Homo sapiens: one gene and its partner. The protein of the gene in region 1 purifies or fractionates together with the protein of each later gene. This does not show direct contact. Each region holds a gene or a part of one and is shown on either strand. Other genes may lie near its edges.

The links.
Region 2: the proteins of SYTL3 (region 1) and RAB10 purify together in Homo sapiens (affinity purification with western blotting, with the first as the bait; one study listed by BioGRID). This does not show direct contact.

What each region holds. Positions count from the first base shown.
Region 1 is NC_000006.12:158,651,787-158,657,350, forward strand, and holds part of SYTL3 (synaptotagmin-like protein 3), read left to right. Parts: 5' UTR 1-56; intron 57-5,564. UniProt on the Homo sapiens protein: May act as Rab effector protein and play a role in vesicle trafficking. Binds phospholipids in the presence of calcium ions.
Region 2 is NC_000002.12:26,121,084-26,124,583, reverse strand, and holds part of RAB10 (ras-related protein Rab-10), read right to left. Parts: intron 1-3,500. UniProt on the Homo sapiens protein: The small GTPases Rab are key regulators of intracellular membrane trafficking, from the formation of transport vesicles to their fusion with membranes.

The DNA of each region.
Region 1 (5,564 bases):
GGTGAATTGCAGTGATCTTTCAGAGAAAGCGCCTGTTCAACTTTGTCCTCTCTCAGGTAGGCTTCAAGTTTTATAGATTCAAGCCCACGTGTGAGTCTTCTAATGTTTTATTTATTTATTTATTTATTTTTATGTATTTTTATTTTTTTTTATTTATTTGAGATGGAGTCTCACTCTGTTGCCCAGGCTGGAGTGCAATGGCACGATCTCGGTTCACTGCAACCCCTGCCTCCCAGGTTCAAGTGATTCTCCTGCCTCAGCCTCCCCGGTAGCTAGGATTACAGGTGCCTGCCACCATGCCCAGATAATTTTTGTATTTTTAGTATAGATGAGGTTTCACCAGGTTGGCTAGGCTGGTCTCAAACTCCTGACCTCAGGTGATCCACCCACCTCGGCCTCCCAAAGTGTTGGGATTACAGGTGTGAGCCACCGAGCCCAGCCTGTTTATTTATTTACTTATTTTATTATTATTATTTTTTGAGACAGAGTCTCACTCTGTTGCCCAGGCTAGAGTGCAGTGGCTGCAATTTCAGCTCACTGCAAGCTCTGCCTCCCGGGTTAACACCATTCTCCTGCCTCAGCCTCCGAAGTAGCTGGGACTATAGGCACCTGCCGCCACACCTGGCTAATTTTTTTGTATTTTTAGTGGAGACAGGGTTTTAACATGTTGGCCAGGATGGTCTCCATCTCCTGACTTCATGATCCACCTGCCTCGTCCTCCCAAAGTGCTGGGATTACAAGCGTGAGCCACCACGCCCGGCCTTATTTATTTTTTTGAGACAGAGTCTCGCTCTGTCACCCAGGCTGGAGTGCAATGGCGCGATCTCAGCTCACTGCAACCTCCACCTCCCAGGTTCAAACAATTCTGTCTCAGCTTCCCGAGTAGCTGGGATTACAGGTGCCCACCACCATGCCCGGCTAATTTTTGTATTTTTAGTAAAGACAGGGTTTCACCATGTTGGCCAGGCTGGTCTCAAAACTCCTGACCTCGTGATCCACCCACCTCAGCTTCCCAAAGTGCTGGGATTACAGGCGTGAGCCACCGCACCCAGCCGAGTCTTCTAATGTGAAGTAGAGATATCTGAGGGACCTGAAACTTGTACAACTTGTGGAGACTTTGGGAAAACAAAGAGGGAACCAGGTACAGGGCATCTAGGGCCTTGGACAGGGCCGTGCAAATAAAGGATTCTGAAGTTGAGGTGTCATTCGCTTCCCAGAAAACCCACCTCTGAATGAGTAACAAGATAGACAGAAAATGTATAAACGCACATCTTCATTTCTGTGTCAGACTTTCTGATGGATATGCATGCGTGCTGTCTCATTGTTGCAAAAATGAGTCTTTTAAGCCTATGAATAGGGAACTGAGCTGAGAGCTGTTCTTTATTCATCACCTTCCTTTGTGGCTGTAATCAGCTTCCGTAAAGAATCTATGCAAGCAGGCCGGTCGCAGTGGCTCACACCTGTAATCCCAGCACTTTGGGAGGCCACGGTGGGCAGATCACCTGAGGTTGGGAGTTTGAGACCAGCCTGACCAACATGAAGAAACCCTGTCTCTACTAAAAATACAAAATTAGCGGAGGATGGTGGTGCATGCCTGTAATGTCAGCTACTCGGGAGGTTGAGGCAGGAGAATTTCATGAACCTGGGAGGCGGAGGTTGTGGTGAGCCAAGATCGCGCCATTGCATTCCCGCCTGGGCAACAAGAGCGAACTCCGTCTCAGAGAAAAAAAAAAAGAATCTATGCAAGCAAAAAAGTCATGAGGTTTTCAGGTAAAATTTCAAGGACAATGCAGTCACTCAACTTTTCCCCTGTGTACGAGGCAGAAAGCATGGTGGCTGCACGCTGAAGCTGTGAAACTTCTCAAGGAAATAGCTGTGGTAAACAATACAGGAGCGAGCTGCCGCCCGCTTGAAATGACCTGCAGGGCTGTGGCTTGTGGGCTTTGAGAACGTTCTGTAGTCTTCCCTTGAAAGCGTGTGTGGTGATGACAGTCACATTCACACGCACTCATGCTACCGCAGATCTCTGCATTTCCACTCTGGTGACGTTTCCCCCGTACCAGGGAGGGCTGAACATTTATTTCCTTTGATCTGATGACTGACTGCTCAGAGACAATAGATGATTGGATGAAAGAAATAGGGGCCCCTAAGAATAAACAATGTGTCCCTTTCCCATCCTCCTCATCTCTTTTCTTCATTGGTTTTACTTTTCTTGTACTTTTCCCCTTTCACCAGATTTAGAAGCCAAAGTCAAGATTTGCTGTTAGGCTGAGGAAAGCAAGCAGGCATTGTTTCAAACTCCTAGTGCATGGCTGACTATTTCAGTCCCCTGGCGGAGCTGTCCCACACGTCTCTCCCTGGGAAGCCCTCCCTGGTCCCACCAGCCCTCTCTGCTCCTGTGTGGAGTGACTCTTGCCTTCTGATCCTTGGGTTTTGTACTCATCCCACCATGTTATGAGTTATTTGTCTGTGTGTCCATGTTCTGGCTGGGATGGGTCCTTCTTAAATGCAGAGATTGAGTCTCACTTCTTTTTAGATCCTCGATATCTGGCACGTGCTTGATACATAGAGGCCAATAAAATCAGTGTTGAACTGACACACTCAATGCCGTAACCAAACTGTGTTTGTCTGGATGCCGAAGTTCCACTGGGATACAGCATGACCAGATAAAGACCAATGGAAACACCTAGATTGAAGTTTTCCCCATGGCTGCCCGCGTCCCTCCCAATCCCAGAACAGTGGCTTAACTTCCTACTCTTGGGCCTTCCTGAAGGGGAGATGGAAGGGTAGAAGAAACCCTTTTGAGTCGGGCTTGCTTTGTTCTGGCTGTTGCTCTAGGGCTGTGCCTGGATGACTCAGTGAGTTCCCCAAACAGCCCTGTGAAGCAGGGATGGCTCCATGTCACGGAGGAGGAAGGCCAGTCTCCCAGAGATGAAGCAGCTGGCCTGAGAGCACGTGGCTGAGTCCTGGCTGGGTATGAGCCCAGACTGTCTGGCTCCAAAAGTGACACAGAGACAGGATGGCTGAGTGTCGGGGGGGCTTCTCCACATGGCTGTAGGAGAATGTTTCCTTCCAGGTGGTGCTGTGGTGTGGGATTTATTCATTTTTAATTGCCAGATAAAATCAGGCTGATCGATGGAGTGCTGTAAAACAAAGACAGGCACCATTACAAAAATGTAGCAGGGGAGTTAGGAGACTGGATCTAAGCTCCGAGCAGGTGAGGACGGTGCCTGACTCAGTGCTTGGGACATCATAGAGCATTTAAGATCTTGTTGAGCAAATGATGGAGTGACCGAATAAATGTCATCCTGGGAAAATGGACCTAGGAGATTTCCGTATTCAAGCTATGAGATTGTGAATTCCTGCGTGAGATGATTAACATACAATTTCAAAGATTCCTGTTAAATTCCAAAATGACTCAGATTTTTCTATGCTTTTTGGATTTCTGAAGACTGAGGTTTTCTGCAGTGAGGACTCACTTGCCCCCTGCCCGTCCTTACTTCCTGCTGTACTTGAATATGGGCTTCCTGCCCTAGGAAGGAAGTTTGACATCGGAGTAAATCTCCGTGTCGCAATATTCTTCAGGTTTCTCAATTCAAGCCAAACATCAAGTGCCTCCTGGCTGGGTGATGGGGGAATCGCTGAAATCTGATATTGTCCCTAGAAGGCAAACACTCAAGACAGAATGAAATCAGGGTCACCATCGAAATATACAAATTAGAAAGCAGTTAAATTTGAAGGAGCAATGGATCTTTATTGTAAATGAGGAGAAAGTTTCTGAACTGGGTAGCCTTGATCTGGCCCTTGAAGGGCTAATAGTAAGAGTGAGGCTGCTCTTACTGTTAGTACCACGACTGTCAGCCGGCATTAGCTGAGTGTACTTATGAGCTGAGCACTGTGCTCTAGAGGTCTCCACATGCATCAGCACGTTTCGTCATCATAGCACCGCCGTGAAGTGGGTGCTGCACCTGTCTACTTCGTAGATGAGGACATGAAGCCCCAGAGGGCTTAAGTAACTTGCCCATCATCAGCTCAACAGCAAGTCGGTGGCAGAGGCAGCTACTCACCCACACAGCCAGCCCCCAGCCCTGGTCTCATGACTGTCCCCATCTCTTGCCTCATTGGGCAGAAGGAAGAGTGGGGCCGATGCGTGGAAATGCAGAGCGCATGTGGTCAGGGAATGGTCTTGAATGAGGTCAGTATGGGAGTGGCGAGCATTCTGTGGGAACTGAGGATGGAGGAGTCAGGAGAACTGGATCGGGAGGTCACGACTGGGATGCCTGTGCTTTAGAATGTGTTTACGGGAAGGGAAAACCAGCGTGACTTCACTGGAGAGTGGAAGAGTGACACATTCCCACCTCAGTATTGTCACATCTGCCGTCTCTCACCCTAGAGATGCCTTCTCCTCCTTTCCAATCCTCACACAACTCCCCTCTTCTCCCAGGCCTGGCGGTGGCGTCTCAGCCAGGCAGGTGTCCTGTCCTTTCCTGTCACCTGTCAGTCTTCCTCTTCCTCGTGGTCCATTCAGCAACATCACTGCTGCTCTGGGTGGTTGCATGTGGTCGTTTGCCTGCAAGCAGGTGGGTGCAGCCAGTTCAGGACCCCTGTGACAACTATTCCTGTTACCTGCTTTGTGAGTGTTAAAAATGTCATCCTTGGCCGGGTGCGATGGCTCACGCCTGTAATCCCAGCACTTTGGGAGGCTGAGGCGGGCAGATCACGAGGTCAGGAGATCGAGACCATCCTGGCTGACACGGTGAAACCCCATCTCTACTAAAAGTACAAAAAATTAGCCGGGCATGGTGGCAGGCGCCTGTAGTCCCAGCTACTCAGGAGGCTGAGGCAGGAGAATGGCGTAAACCCGGGAGGTGGAGCTTGCAGTGAGTGGAGATTGTGCCACTGCACTCCAGCCTGGGCGACAGAGCGAGACTCTGTCTCAAAAAAAAAAAAATCATCCACCTTACTCCCTTACTCTATTGTTGTAGAAGGGCCTGAAGCACAAACCTGGTGTTGTGTGGTGATGGCGGGACAGTGTGGAGAAATATGCAGCGAATTTTAATAGATTTCACAGAATTCCTTGACTACCTCATGTTCTACTTCAAAATGGCACAAAACCAAAAGCATTCAAGAGAGAATTACATTTGTTTTATCCATTTTTAAGACTATGTAAAGTAACTCCATGTGGTTTTTCATATCTTGCTAGTGTAAGTGACCAGAATTTAAATCTGTAAAGGTTCACTTTTTCTTGCTAATGCTGTGAGGTGTTTGGAAGTTATCTCTGATCTTCCTGGTACTTACTATAGGCTCATTCAGTTTACTAATTAACTCCATCTGCCACCTTAAAAACCCTTAGTAGTGGCCGGGCACGGTGACTCATGCCTGTAATCCCAGTACTTTGGGAGGCCGAGGCGGACAGATCAACTGAGGTCAGGAGTTCAAGACCAGTCTGGCCAACATGGTGAAACCCTTTCTCTACTAAAAATACAAAAATTAGCCGTGTGTGATGGCGCGTGCCTGTAATCCCAGCTACTCAGGAGGCTGAGTCAAGAGAATCGCTGGAACCT
Region 2 (3,500 bases), on another chromosome or scaffold:
TATTCAAAAACAACAATAGGCTGAGCACGGGGGCTCATGCCTGTAATCCCAACACTTTAAGAAGCTGAGGCAGGAGGAGCACTTGAGCCCAAGAGCTCAAGGCTGGAGTGAACTATTATCACTGCCACTGCACTCCAGCCAGGGCAACAAAGCAAGAACCTGTCTCAAAAAAAAAAAAAAAAAAAAAAAAAAAAGCAACAACAACAATAAGAAAAACAACAGCAACAAAACTGCCAAATGGCTGCGGTTACTTCATTTCCTGTAGCTATAAGAAAAAAAAAAACTAGGAAAGTTATAAAATATGCTGATTTAAAACAACATACAGTTGACCCTTGAACAATGGGGGTAAGGGTATACCATGTATAACTTTTACTCCCCAAACACTTAATTAGTAACAGCCTGATGCTAACCAGAAGTATTATCAGTAACAGTCGATTAACATATTTTATATATGTATTCTATACTGTATTCTTACCATAAAGTTAGAGAAAAGAAAATGTTATTAAGAAAATCATAAGGAAGAAAAATATATTTACTATTCATTAAGTGGAAGTGGATCATCATAAAGGTCTTCATCCTCAATGTCTTCAAATTGAGTAGGCTGAGGAGGAGAAAGAGGAGGGGGTTGGTCTTGCTGTCTCAGGGAAGGCAGAGGCAGAAGAGGTAGAGAAGGTGGAAGGGGAGGCAGGCACACTCAGTTTAACTTTACGGAAAAACATTGTAATTTCTTTTTTGCTTTTTCATTTCTTTAAAAATATTTCTATACAAAACCAATCCTTCTTTCATCATTTGCTTCAGTTTCAGTGCCTGTATCACACAATGGTCCATGTTGTACAGTAAGTCTAAAGCAGTCTTGAATAATCAGAACCCTTCTGCCAGATTGTCTACAGTCAATTTGTTTTCTGGCACTACTTCTTTGCCTTCTTCCTTATCGTCCAACGCTGGTTTGGAAGCACCGGCATCTTCATTAAATCATCTTCTGTTGATTCCTCTGGTTGATGTCTATTAGCTCTTGTCTTATCCACAGTCTCTTTCATAAATTCCTTGACTGGCTCTGCTACAAATCCTGTGAAATCATGCTCAACATCGGTACACAGTTTTCTCCAGCAGGAAGTTACTGTTTTGTGCTTGATGGCTTTCATGGCTTTTTCTATAACGATGGCATCTTCAGCGGTGTAATTCCTCCAGATTTTCATGATGTTCTATTGAGGTTAGAGTACCGTGTGTTATTAACCTTAAAGGTCCTCATGATCCCCTGATCTAGATGCTGAATTAGAGACTGTGTTCGGGGGCAAGTAGACCACTTCAATGTTTTCGGTGTTAAACTCATGGGGTTCTGGGTGGCCAGGGGCACTGTCCAACATCAAAAGAACTTTAAAGGGCTGTCCCATAATGGCAAGGTATTTCCTGATTTCAGGGACAAAGTATTGATGGAACCAATCCAGAAAAAGGATTCTCAGTGTTCAGGTCTTCTTGTTGAATGATCAAAAAACTGGCAGCTTCAAAAGACTTTTCCCTTCAGGTCTTGGGGGTTAGCAACTTTATACGTAAGGGCAGTCAGTCCTGATCATAAACCCAATTGCATTTGCACAGAACAGTAGTTAGCCTATCCCTTCCTGCCTTAATTCCCTGTGCTTTCTTCTTTTCCTAACACTCATGTCCTTTGTGGCCTGCCCCCCTCCCTGCCACCCCGAGAATAGGACACTTTTAACTGCATTAAAGACTTGTTCAGCGGTGCCCAGGAACTTGTCTGCTGTGTCTTAGTCAGCAGAAGCTGCTTCTCCTGTTAGCCTGCCATTTTTAGGCCAAGCCTCTTTCTAAAATTATCAAACCATTCTTTGCTGGCATTAACTCCTCTAGCTTCTCTTCCGTTTTGCTTTAAGTTGTCATATAATAACTTCACTTTTTCTTGAATATCATAGTCTACAAGTATGCCCTTTTTTTTTGTTTTTTTTTTTGAGACAGAGTCGCTCTGTCGCCCAGGCTGGAGTGCAGTGGTGTGATCTCAGCTCACTGCAAGCTCTGCCTCCCGGGTTCACACCATTCTCCTGCCTCAGCCTCCCGAGTGGCTGGGACTACAGGCGCCCGCCACCACGCCTGGCTAATTTTTTGTATTTTCAGTAGAGACGGGGTTTCAACGTGTTAGCCAGGATGGTCTCGATCTCCTGACCTCGTGATCTGCCCGCCTTGGCCTCCCAAAGTGCTGGGATTACAGGCGTGAGCCACCGCGCCCAGCCTACAAGTATGCCTTTCTTATAGCAATCCTGTACCCACATAAGAGCTGCATTTTCAACATGAGATAAAAAGGTATTCTGTAAAAAGTGCAAGGTTTCACACCTCCTGCTGTGGCTGCAGTGATGGCTTCACAAATTTTCTTTTATTTAAAATGGTCCTTATGCTGGATTAATTTATCTTGAAATAACGGGCAACCACAGCTGCAGACCTCATTCTACAGTACATATTAAGCAATTCAATTTTTTCTTGTAATGTCATGACTTTTCTGTTTCTCAGGATTGCTTCTGGCATCACTAGTGGCACTTTGTATAGGTCTGATGGTGTTATTCAAGGTTTATGGTATTGCACTAGACACGATGAAAACACGCAAGAACCACAAAAGACCTCTTTTGATTGCAATATGGGATTTACTGGAGACACAAACTGTTCACGGGGAGATGATCCACATCACATGGTGTTTTAAGCAGACACTTGGAAACATACGAGCTCACCAAAATAGCAACAGGAGGTGGCTACAAAATTATCACAGTAGTACAGTATGTATTAGTTATTTTTATGCAATTATGATTTAATACTGCATCTCTGTTACATTTCTCTTGATGCAAAAGGTGCCTTGTATGGGCTCTGTGTGTTTGAGTGTTAATAAATTTAAACTTTTAATAATAGATCTGTGTATGTTTTATGGTAGTAATAAAATAGACTAGTATCTACATATACTTTAGACATTCATAATATACTTAACTTTTTCTTAATTTCCCCCCCGCCCAATATTTCTAGGTTATGTGGCTTGTCTGTGAGTTTTTCAAGTTGTTGCAAGTCTCTAACATTTTTTCCAAAAGATTTGTTTTTAAAAACCTGTTTATAGAGCTGGGTGTGGTGGCACACACCTGTAATCCCAGCTTCTTGGGAGGCTGAGAAGGAAGAATCACTTGACCCCTGGAGTTTGAGACCAGCCTGGGCAACACTGCGAGTCCCCATCTCTTTAAACAAAAATATCCATGTGTAAGTGAACCTGCAGTTCAAGGGTCAATGACAGTTTAAAAGGGGGTAGACAAAGGTGGGATTAGGGAGGAAACAACTCTTTTGTTGCAAGGACGATACCCTTAGTAGAATCACAAGCTTAACAAAGAAAAATTATACCGCATGTGGTGGCTCACGCCTGTAAAGCCAGCACTTTGGGAGGCTGAGGTGGGTGGATCACATGAGGTCAGGGGTTCGAGACCAGCCTGGCCAATATGGCAAAACCCTGTCTCTACTAAAATTAC